Linked DNA regions of Homo sapiens: region 2 is linked to region 1. Evidence: fine-mapped expression QTL. Tissue or cell type: whole blood. Region 1 holds a variant in brackets; the other region holds the start of a gene. All regions are shown on one strand. Distances are between the middles of the regions. Region 1 overlaps LOC107984005 (a long non-coding RNA gene). Region 2 holds the start of ZNF706 (zinc finger protein 706).

Region 1 (9,125 bases):
GCTGAACCAATACACAATTGAGTAAAAGAGAAAAAAGCAGGCAGAAGCCACACGATGAAGGGCTTTGTCTGTCGTCTTGGAGTTTGGCCTCTATTCTGTGGGCCCCAGGGAGTCAGTGCAGGGTCTTGAGTCAGGGAATGACATACAGTGGCCATTCTACCTAAAGTGTTGGAAGGGAGAGTTTGAGGTGGAAGTTGCATCTGCAGAGAGGTTTTTAGGGGCTATATTACAAGTGTAGACCATCAAATTATAACTACATATGGGGGAGAAAGTAGAGGTGGAGGGGGATACAAAAGGCAGAAGAAAAAGCAGAAATAGAAAGAGGAAGAGGAAGAAAAGTGGATAGTAGAGAATGAAGGAAAACATAAGTCCAAGAAAGATGAAGGAAAGCGCTGAAGATGGGAGGCTGTGGAGAGGGCCTGGAGAAGAGGGTGAAGAACACAAGGAGACTGAAAGCTTTTCACCCTTGGTTCTTGTTGTGCCATGCCAGGCAAGTGTCTGCAGAGAGCAGAAATGCCATTTCCTGCCAGTTCTCTTTGCCTCAATGGGCAAAATGTCAGCAGCACTCAAGGGGAGAAGCCTGGTTTCAATATCTGATCCAAGGAGGAAGGGAGAGAGGAGGAAAGTGTGGTGACAGTGGTTCTCAGGGCCTTGCGTGTATCCAAGGAGTATCCAGCCAATGAAGGGGAGGTAAAATCTAGACAGGAAAAGAGCTGGCAGGAACCAGGCCAAGGGGAGAGAACCTCCAGCCAACTGGGAAGAGGTTGAGGGCCAGATCCTCCCCTAGAAGGAGCTGGAATAGGGACAAGCACCGAGGCTCTGGGCAGAAGACCTTTGTCCCTGGCACATCCGAGTGGTGTTTAATAGAATGCCAGCAGCTCAAGGCTCCCACAGACACTGGGGGTGGAGGAGGGGCAGCCACCCTGTCCCCAGGCACACACTACACTCCAGGTGTGGAAGCCACCTGTTGTTCCTGGCACCCCTGCAGGATTTTCAGCCTCGGGGTCTTGGCAAAGCAGATCTTGCAAGTGAACAGCCTTTAGAACTCAAAGCTTGACAGGCAGGGGATCAATATTTGAGATATTTCTATTTTCTAACCCAGCAAGGTTTAATAAGGTTTTATAACCATTGTTTGTTTTAGAGTTAGACAAACATGGGGCTGCCTCTCCTCTCTAAGCCAGATAGTGCTATAAAGGATTTCCCTAAATACAGCTGCCTCTCACCCCACCGCTTCCTCTACGACCAAGGAGGTGCGAGCCCTAAGATGGTGGGAATAGTCATTGTCCCTGCTTGTTTATTGCATAGAGTGTGTCTCCCACAGCACCTCTGTGTGAATGGGGTAGGATTTGGTCTTGTCTTTTTTCGTTTTTTATTTGGACTAGCAAAAGGCTGCCACCTGGAAGTGTTTGCTTTGCAGACTTCACCTTCCCCTGGGTGGTGGCTAACCTTAGACTGCAGTAAGCAGACCCATTTGAGCGATTACTCTGATCTGTGTTCTCTAACCCAGCATTTAGCAGCAGCAAAGGTAGATTTTGGTTAGCTATCTGCCACCTCTTCTGTCCAGAGCAGGAAGGCTTGCTCTTTTTTTAGTCTGTTATTTTGTTTGTTTGTTTTTTTGGTTTTTTTTGAGATGGAGTCTCGCTTGTTGCCCAGGCTGGAGTGCAGTGGTGCGATCTTGGCTCACTGCAACCTCCATCTCCCTGGTTCAAGCAATTCCCCTGCCTCAGCCTAATCCTGAGCAGCTGGGATTATAGGCACATGACACCACGGCTGTCTTTTTTTTTTTTTTTTTTGTATTTTTAGTAGAGACTGGGTTTCACCATGTTACCCAGACTGGTCTCGAACTCCTGACTTCAGGCACTCTGCCCACCTCGGCCTCCCAAAGTGCTGGGGTTACAGGCATGAGCCACCGTGCCTGGCCAAAGGCTTGCTCTTTATGAGGCCCTCTGGAGACCCAAATGATGCTCTGTGGGGCCAGGCCTCTGTAGACAAGGCTCAGCCAATAACAATGGAAAATGTCTTGATCTCTTTTGTTACTACCCCAGGGCCCATGGTGAGATCCACTGACAGTGTCTTTTGGTGTGTTTTTGACACCAATTGACAAGTTTCTCCCAAACTCTTTATGGAGACATTTGTATCAAGAGAAACTGGCCAGATGTGACAGGTTCCCTCCTGTAATCTTAATGCTTTGGGAGGCCGAGGTGGGATGATCGCTTGAGGCCATGAGTTCAAGACCATCCTCAGCAACATATCTCTACAAGAAAACAACAACAAAAACTAGCCAGGTGTGGTGGCACATACCTGAAGCCCTAGCTACTTTGGAAGTTGAGGCTTGAGCCCAGGAGTTCAAAGCTGCAGTGAGCTATGATCACACCACTGCACTCCAGCCTGGGCAACTTAGCAAGATCTTTACTCCTTACAAGAGAGAGAGAAACTGATGGGAACAGTAAACAAAGGGGACTGTAAGCAAGGAGTTGGTGGAGGTCATTGATATTCCCTCAGTGCAAAACTGTACACATCTTACCTAAAAGAAAGTAGCCACCCTTAGCCTATCTTGCTCAAGAATATTGGTCACAATTGACTGTGCACTCTGTTCCTGCATGAAGGACCAGCTATGACATGGCAGCTTCTCGGGGCTTCAGGTTCCATTTGAAGATTTTCTTATTTCTCTCCCTGTCCCTCCAGAAGCTGCTGGATTAATCAGACACTAACCTCTGCTCTCTAGTATGAATGTCTGTGCTTAAAACTGGTGCTCCTAATAGTACAATACAGTAATAGCTCATCATCTATTATCAGAGAATATAAGAACATTTTCAAAAAAAAAATCACAATTTAATTATTGATATGTATAGGTTGTAGCCATTTTGTAAAACAAAAAAGCACTACTCTGCTTTTATTAATAGGATGGGCTGGAACATAACTTAAACTTCTGATAATGATAATTTAGGATTGCTGTTGGACGCTTCTGATAGCACATTCTGCCCATGGAAGAAACAATCTTTCTTCTCCTGAATTGCACCAGATTGCCTCCCAGGCAGCCAGCTTTGCCTCTGCTCCCATATCTTAAAGTTTAATAGCTTTACTTTTGTACCAGTCTCCCTTTAGTAGGCTGTCTACAACCCCAGATATTCATAGAATGAGAATTTTTAGATCTAGAAAAAAATTGGCACCTCCACAGTCTTTGATTGTCACCTAGGGCAGAACCGCAGGTTACCAAGGAAACCAAATAATCCCGTATTGTTTGTGATACTAAGTCAAAGTTGCTCTCTGTGCATCTGAAGGAACAAAGTACCAAGACTTTGTCACAGTTGCCACTGTTAAGGTCAGAGTCTTTTAAACGTAGTCACTGTTAGTCTGGAACTGTACCCAGGGAAGGGAATACTACAGTACCCAGATTTTATTCTATCGATAGCAATAGTAGGTGTCCTAGTGATTGGAACTAAGTTCCACCTCAGAGTCACGTGTCTCTTGAGTCAGTGTTGTATTCACCTGTGGATAACTGTGGGCAGTTAAGAGTGGTATAAAATAGTCCAAATAAAAGGTGAGGGAATCTTGATGAGAATGGGAAAGAGTCCAAATCTGCTAGATGTTCCAAAGTCACAACTGGAAGTTTTGGTGACTGGTTTCTGGAACAGGAGGGGGTGAAGTAGAGGAGCCAGCTCTCTAACTTGGGTGGTGGCACAAGCCAAGATTTAGAGCACATGGGTAGGACACGTAGATGGCAGGTTTCTCTGTGCACATGTAGTCTAGCAGCCCAGAGGATACTCGGGGAAAATGTAGTCATCCTTGGCTTCACAAACATTCAGATGACAACTGTTCTGAGAGGTGCATATGGAATTGCCCTGACTATGAACATCATGTGGTGGAAAGAGGTGGGACATTGGTTCTTTTGGGTCAAGTTCTCCTACTAACTAGCTATGGAACCTTAAGCAAGTCGTAACTGTTCTTCGTAAGTCTCTAAAATGAGAATGAGAATATCTCTAAAATAAAATGAGAATATTTTCAAGGTCTGTTTCAAGTGTCACATTTAGAGCCAAATGTACTTTGATTCACTCTGTCACTTTTTCCAGGGAGGTATATTTGCTTATTTATTCAATTATATATTTGTGAATTGCCACAAGACATCCATGCCAGTTAAGTCTCACAGCTTTGTCAGTTGAATTAAGTATAATTATTGTCTCTCTGTCAGGATATCACTTGCCTGTTATGGTTTGAACCTAG[T/G]GCATTGTGTGATGGTTACTTTTTAAAATAGTTGCAGATCTTGGACTTTCATCATTGTCATAATTCATCTGCCAAAACATCCCCAGGCCTCACTTGCTGTCATGCAGCTTTTTGTTTTTAATTATGGTAAAAAAAAATCACACAACACAAAACTCACCATTTAAACCATTTTAAAGAGTACAGTTCAGTGGCCTTTAGTACACTCACAATGTACAACCATCACCACTATCTAGTTGGAGAAGAATATCATCTCAAACGGAAATGCTCTACCCATGAAGCAGTCACTCCCTTACCCCTTCTCCAGTCTATGACAACCACTAATCCACCTTCTGCCTCTATGGATTTGCCTATCCTGGACATTTCATACAATATGTGTCCCATTGTGTCTGGCTTGTTTCATTTAGCATAATGTTTTCAAAGTTCAGTATGCTGTGGTATGGTTCAGTACTTCATTCCTTTTGTGACTGACTAATATTCTATTGTATGGATATACTGCATTATATTTATCCATTCATCCATTGATGGACATTTGAGTTGTTTCCACCTTTTGGCTACTGTAAATATTTCTATGGTGAAAACATATATACAAGTTTTTTTTAAACATGTGTTTTCAATTCTTTTGGTTACATACCTAGAAGTGGAATTGTTGGGTCTTATGGTAATTCAACATTTAACTTTTTGAGGAACTGCCTAACTATTTTCTAAAGCAGCTGAACCATTTTACATTCCCACCAACAATATATGAGGATTCCAATTTTCCTACATCCTCACCAACACTTGTAATTTCTGTTTTTTTTTAAATTTTTTATTATAGCAAGCCCGGATGGGACTATAGAAAGCATGCTCCAGTGGGTGTGAAGTGGCATCTCATTGAGGTTTGGATTTTCATTTTTCCAGTGACTAAGGATGATGGGTATCTTTTCATGTTCTTTGCTGACCATTTGTATTGTGTCTATACAGGTATTTTGCTTATTTTTTCCATTGGATTATTTGTCTTTTTTGTTGTTGAGTTGTAGGAGTTTTTTGTATATTCAGCATTCTAGATCCTTATCAGATATATGATTTACATATGTTTCTCCCATTTTGAGGGGCTGTTTTTTCACTTACTTGTTAGTATCCCTTGATATAGGAAAGTTTTTTATTTTGATGAAGTCCCACTTATTTATTTTTTCTTTTGTTACTTGTGTTTTTGATGTCCTAACTAAAAAATCATTGCCAAATCCAAGGTCCTGAAAACGTGCTACTATATTTTCTTCTGATAGTTTTATAGTTTTAGTTCTTGCATTTAGGCCTTTGATCTAGTTTGAGTTAATTTTTGTATGTAGTGTGAGTTGGGGGTCTGACTTCATTATTTCGCATGTGGGCATCGGTTGTCTTGGTGATACTTAGGAAGGTGTTTATACCTATTGGTTAGTCCATGGCAGCTAACCACATAAACTATGCTATGGTTCCTTATATTGTGCCCATATGTAGTGGACACTACTGGTTGCCTACCAAAATCTATTACTCCTTATTTTTTCCTGAAATAATCCTAGTTTTGTTTCGGTATTCGCTTTTTTCCCCACATGATTCAGGGTAAAGTAACCCCACCCTAGGCTCTAGATCCTAATTACTTTAAGCCTGCTGTTCTCAGAATGTCATCTATAAACCCTTGAAGGTTTCCTAGACCCTTTCATTAATTCTGTGAGATCAAAACTGTTTTTAAAAGAATACTAAAGTGTTATTTGTCCTTTTCACTGTAGGTAACATTTGCACCAATGCTACAAAACCACTGGTGGGTAAAACTGCTGGTGCCACACACTATATACAAGATAGTAATAGTAGTTGTATTTTTGTATTCCATCATGCACTTGCAGAAAAAGAGAAAAAGCTAGTTTCACTTGATGCCCTTGAAGAAAAAGTCAATATTTTAAATTTAATTAACCTTTGACCTTTGAGTATACTTTTTAAAAATATTCTATATGAAAAAATACAAGTAACCTTCTGTTACATGTTGAAGTATGATTGTTATCTCAAAAGAAAGCACTTATGTGATTGTCTGGTCTGCAAGCTAAATTAGCTCATTTTTTTACTTGAAAGGATGATTGACAAACTATGTTTATTTAGACATAAGTATTTATAGACATTATTTCAAACTTGGACAAAGGGAGCCTCTTTGGGGAAACCAATTGACAGTATTTGACGCCAGGGATAAAGTTCAAGCTTTTGAGCAAAATTAGAATTTTGGAAAATGTGTATCCACTATTGTGAGCTTGATAGATTTCCATATTTTATTAACAGCTTCTGAATATTTAGATTTTTCTGATATCAGTGGCAATATTAGTGAACATGATTGTTTTGACATTATATAATGAAAGTGTCAATATTTGGAAGATCTGCATAATTCAGTGAACCAGTATTTTCCAAATGACCAATGTTTGACTTTACAAAATTATGCACGTATAAAAGATTAATTCAAAGTGCAAGACAGATCAATACATATTAATGTAACAACATAAAAAGTTCATTACTATGGTTTCCGTGCACACAGTTTTCAGGGTTCTATTATTCAAGGTGCATCTCCATCACCTGCCAAAGTGGAGGCAGATGGCTCAAGCTCAGGCAATCAGGCTGTCTCCTCCACTGGAAATTGATCTTGGGTGAAAATAAAAAAGCATAGAAAACTGTTGAAATTGACACTGGGAAGAGATTTTTCACTTATTCTTGCTACCTGAATCCTGAGAATTGCCCTGATTCCTGCCCCTTCTGAGGTCTGGTCCCTCAACTTTTTCTTAGATTTGGGAGCCACCTGTATCCTTAAAAAAGTATTTTTTGCTCAAGGGAGCTACAGTCTGATTCTGTTGCTTTCCACCAAGAACTCTGATAGAGACGTAGAAACCTACTGTGAGTCCTCTCTTGCTGGGACACCGAAGCTCTCCCTGCCATGCTGTGCTTCCTGTGCCTCTCACCTATAGATCTGAGACCTTTGAATGACATTGTTGATGAATAATGAATGGAATTAATTAACTTGACTAGCTTTCCCCAGTGCTATGGGCTGACTGTCCCCCCAAATTAATGTGTCAGAAACTTAATCTCCAATGTGACAATGTTGGGAGGTGGGGCCTAATGGGAAGTTAGATAATGGGGCCCTCATGAATGGATTAATGCTGCTATAAAAAGGACTTGCAGGAGTGTATTTGCCTTCTTCTGCTCTTCTGCCATGTAAAGACACAGTGCTTGTCCATCTTTCACTTGCCCTTCCATCTGCTGTCATGTCAGGATGCAGTAAGAAGATCCTCACCGGATGCCAGCACCTTGATCTTGAACTTATAGCCTCCAGAACTGTGGGAAACAAATTTCTGTTCTTATTGAATTACCTAGTCTGTGGTATTCTGCTATAGCAGCACCAAATGGACTAAGACGCCTGGTTAACATTCATCATCTGTTCATCTGCTTACATCCCTGTGGATATGGACCACTTGTCTGAGCCAGGCCAGTAATCTGCATATCCATTCAGACAGTATAGAAGTGATAGCCTAGGTGCCTTCCTGAGGGCTAGACTGAGCCTGTCCTGATTCTTTTCCCTTTCCATTAGCTCTGTGCTTACGAGTTCCCAACATTCTTCAGATCCAAGGCTTTCATGAATTTATAGTGGAGAAAGAATCGTACCTATTTTATATACACTTTCATCATGAATTGGAAAGAACAGAGGACCTAGCATAAGAATACCTGAATTCAAATCTCAGCTTTACTACCTGCTATGTGGCCTTGGGCAACTCATTTAATTTCTCTTGAGTCTCAGTTTCCTCATTTGTGAAATGGGAGTTGTAACTATTCCTGCTTTACTTACCTTACAGAGAGGTTGTAAGGATCAAGTTACATAATGGATGTGACAGCAGCCTAATATCCACTAGTTTAACTTTCCCAAGGATCAGGATCTGTGTTTTATCTGCATTGCATCGACACGGCACGATACCTGGGTCACAGTAAATACTTACAACATGTTGGTTGAAGTAACCTCCTTGGGAGGGAGTTGTTACAAAGCTCAACTAGAACTGGGACTAAACTAGCAATGGGAAAAAAGAGGAGCAAACTCAGAGCATGTGGCCTCATTATTCTATAGTCTTGTTCACTGGCTCCTCTTTTAGGTTCTTTTATACTGGACTGTTTTTTCACAACACTAAAAACCTGGGGTTTTTCCTTCCCCAGTTGCCATTGAAACTGGAACTGCTTGAAAGAGCAGCTGAGCAATTCATCAGGCTCTGTGGCTTAGAAGGAGATGCGAGCTCACTCTAAATGAGATTTCCAGTGACACAGGCTCCAGCGGGGATGTTACAATTTCACAGTCACACGTTACTGGCATTGTTTTAAGCTTGCATGAAAGCTTTTGCTAAACCCAACTGCTTCAAGGTTTGCACCAACCACTTGGGCAAACTGCCAGTCGCTATGCCACATTCTTTCCACATCTGAAGGATTATTGAATATCCCTCACAGATTCTTGCTTTCTTTCTTTCATGAGACAGGATCTTGCTCTTTTGCCAAGCTGGAGTGCAGTGGTGTGATCATGGCTCACTGCAGCCTTGACTTCCTGGGCTTAAGCAATCCTCCCACCTCCGCCTCTCAAGCAGCTGGGACTACAAGTGCATGCACCATGCCTGGCTAATTTTTAAATATTTTTTGTAGAGACAGAGTCTCACTATGTTGCCCAGGCTGGTCTCAAACTCCTGGGCTCAAGCAATCCTCCCATCTTGGCCTCCCAAAGTGTGAGCCACTGCACCCGGCCTCTCACAGATTTTTCTAGGGTGAAACAACCCAGCAGATATGGACTGTACCCTTGGAATGAGGCAAAGACTGAAGGGATTTTCTTATTGTTGTAATTAAAATTTTATTTATATTGAAGGAAAATTTATATCTAATAATACTCA
Region 2 (9,125 bases), 32 kb before region 1:
CTGATTAACAGCAAACAATAGGTAACATTTACTGAACCCTTATTATATTAAGCATGTTACCTTAATTCCCACAGAACCTTCAAAGTAATCTTTAGCTCCTACTAGCATCATTTTACCTGATAAGGAAACTAAAACCCAGAGTTTAATTTGCCCAAGACCTTATTTTAACTTAGTACTAGATATGTGACCTCTCAAATACTATACTATACTGACTTCCCTTGGCAAGAACCTTCAATTATTTATTCTTAACCCATTAAATTACACAAAATATGAAATAAAAGTCTGTGGTTTTGAGTTTTTAAATATATGTAACTACTCTACCACATTTAGATTAAGGTATTTCTTCATTACTAGTTGATTAAAATTTGCACCCTGCCTCTTTCCAAACAATCACAAGCTGCTCAATTTCATTATTTTGAGTGTATATGTAGTGTACTAACTCCACTATGGTTTCCTTTGGTACTGCCACTCACTAACTTCAAGGGTAATGAGCTTAAACAAACAGGCAAGAGGCTCTGATTTGGAATTTCAGAAGTACTTCTTTGAGAGGCAGTACAGTAGTGGTCCAGAGGGTGGACTCTGGAGCTGAACTGCCTGAGTTCAGATTCCAGCTCTTCTACTAACCAGCTGGGAGACCCCACACAAATTGTTTAATTTCCATTAGTCAGTTTACTCTTCTGTAAAATGAGAACAATAAAAGTACTTTATCTTATAGGGTTGTTATGTGGATTAAATAGGTGAATACATGTAAAACACCTGGCTCTATGTGTGGCATATGGTAAGCACTCAAAAGTAGCTGTTATTATTACAGTTCTTCAAATCTAATACAACACATTAATTCTAGGAAAAGCTCTCAACGTGATTATACTCTATATGGTTTTACAGACATCCTAATTATAAATTTAGTGAAGAAAAAACCAATTATATAACTAGAGGTATACTTACTAGCATATTATATAGCTCTAAGAGTGTAGAGTTATATGATGTGCTAGTGAAGTGTATTATATGCCCTTATGAAGACATCTTTATTTTATATGAGGAAAGCAATTTTGTTTTGTTCACTCTGTTTTCCCAGCACCTAGAGATTTTTGCCTGGCCACAGGAGCCATTCAAAAAATATTTGTTTAAAGGGTGAATGAAAATAGATACCTAAAATAATCAGCTCTCAAACCTACTATTTCATGTAAAGCATCTATTTTGCCATGGTTTCAAAATTTTAATCTATTCAAGCCAAAACTGCCCACGGGAGAGCTGTATCTTTCAATTCAATTCCCCTTACCCTACAGACAGTGCAGGTATATATTAAGGCAGCTTTGGCAGCAGCCTTTTGGTCATGTCCTTGTTTCTTCTTTTGTCCAGCTTGCTTTTTGGCATTTTTCTGCTGAGACTGAATTTTCTGCTGTCCACGAGCCATATCTAAAAACAGAAGGTGAAGCATTAGAGTGGCTTATTTACTCTAATACAGAGTAATCAAAGCATAAGAACGTTCTTAGAATTGAAGCCTTAAGTTTTATAGAAATATCTGGCAAATAAAAATTTATAGGTATTAAAATTCCCACATATAAATGCTACAAAAGTATCAATTGACACAACCCTGTGGAAAACTAGTTGGTAGCTGTTTATTCTATGAGCCAGCAATTCCACTCTTGGTATATACCCAATAGAAATGCAAATGTTATGTACACCAAGACATGTACAAAATGTTCTGAGTGCCCATTCCAAAACTGGAAAAAATCTGAATGCCCATCAATAGTAACACGGATGCACAACTTGTATACATATTTTTATAGTATTTATACAACGGAATACTACCCAGCATTTAAAAAATTGTGGCCAGGCGCGGTGGCTCACGCCTGTAATCCCAGCACTTTGGAAAGCCAAGGCGGGTGGATCATGAGGTCAGGAGTTCAAGACCAGCCTGGCCAAGATGGTGAAACCCTGTCTCTACTAAAAATACAAAAAAAAAAAAAAAAAAAAAAAATTAGGCAGGCATGGTGGTAGGCACCTGTAATTCCAGCTACTTGGGAGGCTGAGGTGGAGAATTGCTTGAATCCGGGAGGCAGAGGTTGCAGTGACGCGTGATGGCACCACTGCACTGCAGCCTGGGCGACAGTGAGACTCTGGTCTCAAAAATAAATAAACAAACACACAAACAAAAAATTGTTACAAGTAACAACTTGGTTGTATCTCAATGTTAAAGGAAAGAAGCCAGTTGTGGGGAATATACATTATTTAAAGTTCAAAACAGGCAAAGCTAATCTATAGTGAAAGGGGTCACCTTGGGGGTTATGGGTAATGACTGGGAAGACAGGACATGAAGGGGACTTATGGGGTCCTGAAAATGTTCTTGAATCAAGTGTGTTTACTTATAAAAATTCATTGAATTGTACACTCAAGATTTATGCACTTTACTGTATGTAATCTTCACAAGTTTACTAAAAAAGTTTAGCCCCCGCTATCATTTACTTGATCACTCTGCAAAAGTAATTTCCCTTCCCAGTATTCATTGTGACTTGCGATTGTGATTTTTATAACTTTAAGAGAAATAAAAGCTGTCTGTTACTCCTTCTAAAGGAGACCTCAGAAATAGGTGGAAACTGTTTTCTTACTTAGTTTTCATAAAACTACTGTTATTAATTTTTTTAAAAAGTTGGTCTTGCTGGATTGCTGAACAAATTATAAAATGAGATTATCAGCAAGCCACTAATTCCAGAAGTTTCTTTGCTCTCTAGACGTTAGTTCCCATTTGAGGGAATGAACTTGGTTAAGAGGGTTCTTTTACAAAGCTGAAAGATACCACTTTTTGTTACCGATGATCTGACGTGAACCCAAATGGATTAAAACAAAAAAAAAAATCAAGTCACTGAAAAAAGTTACTTTTACTTTTCCATTTAAATTAAAGGCTTTTATTCGACCACACAAGTTAAACCTGCTCATAAAGTCTATCATGAGTCTCAATTGCTTTTTAAATATATCAAAATTGGATCCTAAGTAGAATTCATATATATATAGTTTTGACTAGTACTGTAACTGAATGTAAATCATTGCAGGACAGGAACATACAATGGATTTGTATCAACTTCACCAGGGAAGGGTGCTAGCTTCTTCTGACTAGGACCATAATTAGTTAATGGATATGAGGTCAAAGCATTTCATAAAAATTACTGAGCTCCTCCTGTTCCCCAAAAAAGGAAACTAAAAAAATACACTGATTGGAGAAGTTCCCACTAGCATTAAAAAAATGAACTGAAAGTCAGATAAAATATAAAAGAGGGTCAATGCTTTTCAGGATAGTCAGCTGACTATTTCAACTGAGGAAATATGGGGTTTTTATATTAGGGTAGCACACGAGCCTAATACATTTTCGTAATTGAAAATGTTTAGCGTGCTAGCCTAATATGAGAACCCCATTCCCACCAAACAATGGTAAATATTACCAGCTGTTATCAGTCCTTGAAGACTAAGCTTCCATTTTTGCTTTAAAAAAAATTATTAATTCTAAGCCAAATGGCACATTTTTTTTAAAAGTGTATTTAAGTCCGATGTTACCGCAAGCTTACAAACCTATTCCCATGGAAACAGGTTTGGATACTTATGTATTATTTGGACGACAGTAGTCACGTGATCAGCCTTTATGTATACCAATGTTTTGCAAGGTTTTTTGTCTCAATGTCTTACTATCAGGACCTTGTAACAAAATAGCCAGTCTTCTCACACATCTTAACTCTTCGACACAATGTATTTTATGTATCTTAATACACTGATTTTGTGGGAAATCTTGTTTTATGTTAAAAAAAATCTTCAAAAATGGTAAGCCACTAATTTCAGAAGTTCCTTTGCTTTCTAGAAGTTACTAGCTATTTTGATATTTCCATGTTGTGACTCGTACAAAGCAATGTCATTAGACACACAAAATTATTTTTAACTTTTGCACTTAGGACTTTCCCTAAAATATAACATTACACAATAGATTCAACCCATTTTCCATTGTCACCAAACAGCAACCAAAAAGACCGAAGAGACTTAATAAAGACAGTAGTCACTTGTTCTTATTCTGAAGACAGAAAACTTAACACCAGGTAAAGGAAATGGAATAAAATAAGCTAAATGCATGAGGTAGGCCCCTAACTTCTGACAACACGCCCCATCGATTTCCTTTCTGAAAGCAGAAATTCAAACGAACCAACCACCTGCTTTTGGACAGCTCAACTTAGGACTTGCTCTCAAGCCAACACAATTTTCTACAAAATCGTAGGCAGCTACAACCGCTCCTTGATTAAATGCGACAAACTGGAGGGAAAAAGTCACTTACAAATACCTACATGCTGGTTTTTAATGCAACTCTCAGTGTGGTTTTCCGAGGGGGCTGCAAAGAGGGAAGTAGTGGAAGAAACGAGTTCTAAAATGAGGCGCTCTCGTAGGAGGCAACAAGTAAGCTCTGCCCCAAAGCTCCTTTTAAAACCAACATAAATGAGTAACAGAAGAAAAGGATTTTGGGTCCAGGAAGTAGGCTCATTCTCCATAACCATCGGAAAGGAAGAGGCCCAGGCAGCGCTCCACATCCTGACCCTAGCTTTTAACACCATCGTTTTGGGGAGAGGAGAGGAGGAACGCACCCACAGTGAGGTCTCCACCCAACACTTCTCCGACCCCAGCTTCAGCCTGGCGCACCTTCCTTCCCAAACCCGCCTCTCCCGCCTCGGAGACCCCCTCCTCCTCCCTGCCACCAAAGGCCACGCAGCCCCCATCTAGCCAGTCCTCACGGACCCTGGACCAAGACGCGCCTCCTGGAGGCCGAGACTGCCCGAAACCCGGCCCCTGCGTCCACCGGGAGCGCCACACTCTGGCAGCTGACCGGCGGCTGTCGCCGGGGGTAAGGTTACCGCTCCGCTTCCGCGGCTGGCCTGCGACCCGGCCACCTGCAGGGCCTGGCAGGCGCCCGAACTCATCCCCTTCCCGCGGCCCGCCCCGGGCCGGGCCCTGCCGCCCCCCGCGACCCCTCGCGACCCGCGGCGAGTCCCACGGTCCCCACCGCCCCCCGCTGGCCGGCCCCCGCCCCGTTTCCCGGGCGTCCCGCGGCGTCAGCACCGCCCCCGCTGCCGCTCACCCGGGCCGGGACAGTCTTGCGTCGGAGAGACAGTGCAGCGCGAGAGGGCCGGGAGAGGACGCCGGAGGGAAAGGAAGGGGGAGCGCGCCCAGCACCGCTTGGGCCTCCTCCACCCGCTCAGGAGGGGAAACACGAGAGCCGGGAGCACAACAGCCTCGCACGCCCGCCGCCGCCGCGCGCCCGCCGCCGCCTCAGCCTTAGGGGAGACCACTACGCCTCGTGCCCGCGCACGCCGCGCCGCTCTCCTCGGCGCCCCCGCCCCGCCTGCTCCTCGCAGCCCCGCCCATGTGCCTTTCTGCGGCTGCCTCCTTCTGGCCCCCACCCCGCTCGCACGCCTGCGCCCTGGCTGGTCGCGCGGGCCAATGGCAGCGCGCCCCTATTACATAAGCGCGAGGGGGCGGGCCCTGGCTGACACAAACTTCAGGGGACGTCGCCTTCTGTCCCCAGGCGCCCCTCCTCTCCGGCGCGCTCGGTCCGGGCGGCTTCTTCACCCAGCCCTGGGAGCCACGTGATCCCGGTCCTGGTTGGTGACCGGGCCGCGGCGTGTTTCACAAGTCGCTCGCTCGCTCATCCACTCGGGCGGCGGCCGGGCCTCAGGCGCTGCGACCCTTTTCCCGCTCCTCCCAGGCTGACGCGCCCGTCTCGGCGCCGCCCTCCTCGGCACCGACTGAGGCGCTGGCCCGGGAGCGGATCGCGGGGCCGCGGTGGCTGAGTCACATTCCCGGAGCCCCGCCACCCAGGACACCGCGGCCCCGGCCCCCAGCGAGCCCGGCGGACCCAGCGGCTCTGAACGCGGACGCACAGCCTTTGTTCTTTCACAGCCGCCCTTTACCTCACTCCCATGGAAACCCCAGGTGTTTTCCCAAGCTGGGGGCTTTTAGTGAGTTCAAGATTCAAGCCTAAGTCGTATTAAAAATTGCTGGCTAGGCCGGGCGCGGTGGCTCACGCCTGTAATCTCAGCGCTTTGGGAGCCCAAGGCAGGAGGATCACTTGAGCCCAGGAGTTCCAGACCAGCCTGAGTACATAGCGAGACCCACGTCTCCACAAAAATAAAATAAAATAAAATAAATAGTGGAGCATGGTGGCCCGCGCCTGTAGTCCCAGCTACTCGGGAGGCTGAGGTGGGAGAATCGCTTGAGGCCGGGAGGTGAAGGTTGCGGTAAGCCGAGATCGCGCCATTGCACTCCATCCTGGGCGACTGAGTGAGACCCTGCCTAAAAAAAAAAAAAAACAAAAAAAGAAAAAAAAATTGCTGGCCAGGCTTCCCGGAGGGGTTTAGTTTGACTGCTAACAATATACGGTACTGAGTTGCTAATCCTTCGGGGAATGGTTAAAGTTCTTTGCGCGCGCTCTCTCTCCATTTACAGGCAGTGGCAGCAAACTTTCAATATCTGACAAGAGCAATGGCGATTATAACCATGATTAAAATTGCTGAATATCTGGAAACAGTACTTTAGACATCAGCTTTATTGTGCATACTTACCCCCGACCCCCGCCACATTCGTTTCTAATTAGAACTACTAGTGACAAAGGAGAAAAAAAAAAAGTGTTTGCATTGGCTGTTCTCACCTTGCCTGTAGTGCCGTTTCCCAAGTTTGCGTGGCAGTGCCCAGGAAATGTTGGCTGAATATTAGTATATCCCAAATGACTTGGACTGGGCTATAGATACCACAGAATTGTTTAAACTAGCCAGGAAGGAGTTAGCTGCCTATTGCATTTGAGTGGAGAAAAATACGAAATGAAACATGGCATGCAGTGATCCGGGTGTTCAGTTCTCCCTCTTCATCCTCATTTCAGCTTCTCTCACCTTCACTTTTTATGCTCTGACTTCCTTCTTGCAGTTTTAAATTACTCTCTAGTCCTAGATTGTAAGATTATTTTCATCAGGGAATACGCAGTATGTTAAACATAGTAGACGTTGAATAAATGGATATTGATCAAATGAACCGAGTATGTCTGAAGAAAGCAGCTTTTAAATTGACATAGCATGAAGCTCTAGCTTAGTCACTAATAGTCACTGTAACCTTAATGGTTGTGTTAATCTGGCTGATAGAGGGATGGGTACTTGTTGGCCCTAGAAATGGGAACTTCAAAGATCTGTGTTTATCTAGCCGTGAATGACAGTAGACAGTGGAAAGGGACAGTGAAATTTGTGTGGCAGAGATATGTCTTCTTAACTAAAGAGGTGACTCCTATTGTGAAGTAGGTTAATATGTCACTCTTTACCATGGCCTAGATGAAATATGTATTCAAGCTAGTGTTTCTTAAGTTTTTGAGTCATAACTCCTTTGAGAATTTGGTGAAAGCTATTGACTTTGCCCCCAGAAAGTTCATGTACTTATCATGTAACTTATCCTCATAGGTAGTGTTTCTTAATCTCAGCACCGTTGAAATTTGGGCTGGATGATTCTTTATTATGGGGCTCTGTGAGACCTGGGGATTGTAGGATGTTTAGCAACATCCCTGTCTCCTACCTGCTTATCCAAGTAGCACCTCATCTCCAGTTGTGACAACTAAAAATGTCTCCAGACATTGTGAAATGTTCTCAGGGGGTCAAAGTCTCCCCTGATTCAGAACCACTGCCTAGAGGATATGGCATAATGGTAACTTTATGTGATGGTTAGGGAATTTGAAAAAAAAAAAAAAAAAAAGAAACAAGGAATGGATAAGATTCAACATCTGTGAAGTGACACTCAGTAAATGAAAGGCGGATGAATTAGCATTACTACCAGCTGGTGTCCTACTTATGTTATAGAAATGTGACAGCAAATGTGATATGAACTCCTTAGAAGCATTTTTATACACATTGCTGGCTTTAATTGTGAATGCTACAGTAACTCTCCTGACTGTTTTTCTTCTTCTGCCTTTAGACAATTACCCAAGGTTAAGATGCAATAAACATGTGCCTATTTTCTATCCAAAATCTCAATCAGATTAAAATGCTTCTCTAAAGACCTGAAAGGCTTATTTGTTTATTTGTATTCATGTAGGATTTGGGGGGATGAAAGAATTGGTGATTAATCAACATATTATTTTCCCAATAAACAGACTATTCTGACAAATGTTTAGTGGCAAATAATAGCAACAGCAATAATGGCAACAATAAACTTAGAACAGAAATGGATTTATTTTTATTTATTTATTTTTTACCAGCTCTTTCTCTTTCACTCGCTTCTGCATGTTGAGATTTCTCACACATGCAACCTAGATCTTCTTGTCTTCTTTATATTCTTTCTCCAAAGGAATCTCATTCACTGTTGTGCCTTTAAATAGCAAGCTTCAGGTGACCCCCACATTTCTATCTCCAAATTGACATATCCAAATGCCTACTACTCATCTCCCCTCTGATGTCTTATAGACATTCACATTTAATAGCATATTGTATTGAGTCTAAGGAGCCATTAATTGTAAGTCACATTTATGTCCACTAAGATTAAAAAATACTGCCAACTGAACTATGACAAAATGCTGATATCCTTGATTCTAAGATACATCTTGATTTCAGAGACTTTAAAAATAGGCTTAAAAAATAATGTGATTTACTAGAATAGCACCAAAAAGAATAAAATACTTAGGAATTAACTTACCAAGAGAAGTGCAAAACTTGTATTCTAAACTCTAAATAACATTGTTGAAAGAAATTAAAGACCTAAATAAATGGAAAGGTATCTTATGTTCATGGATCAGAACACTTTGTAAAGATGGCAGTAATTCCCAAGTTGATCCACAGATTCGGTGCAACCCCTATCAAAATCCTGTCTGGTATCTTTACATAAGCTTATTCTAAAATTTATATGGAAATTCAAGGAGCCCAGAATAGCCAAAACAACCTTGAAAAAAGAATAAAATTGGAAGATTCACATTTCCCAATTTAAAAACTTATTACAAAGCTATAGTAATTAAAACAGTGTGGTACTGGAATAAGATTAGACATATAAATCAATGAGGTAGGATTGAGAGTCTAAAAATAAACCTTCATATGTATAGTCAATTGATTTTCAACACAGGCACCAAACAA

The links. PIP is the estimated chance that this variant, and not a neighbour inherited with it, causes the effect.
Region 2: it holds the start of ZNF706, and the variant in region 1 is fine-mapped to the expression of ZNF706 in whole blood (TOPMed, PIP above 0.99).

The regions. Positions count from the first base shown.
Region 1 is chr8:101,232,749-101,241,873 of GRCh38, forward strand. All of the region lies in intron 1 of LOC107984005 (a long non-coding RNA gene), which reads left to right. Among named protein-coding and RNA genes, the nearest start is that of LINC02844, 26 kb to the right of the region's middle. The variant T/G (reference allele first, on the strand shown) is at 4,222.
Region 2 is chr8:101,200,328-101,209,452 of GRCh38, forward strand. ZNF706 (zinc finger protein 706) reads right to left here and starts at 5,346. Exons shown (of 4, transcript NM_016096.5): 1 at 5,108-5,346; 2 at 1,280-1,416. The coding sequence starts at 1,414. RefSeq lists silencers at 4,881-5,480, 5,691-5,910.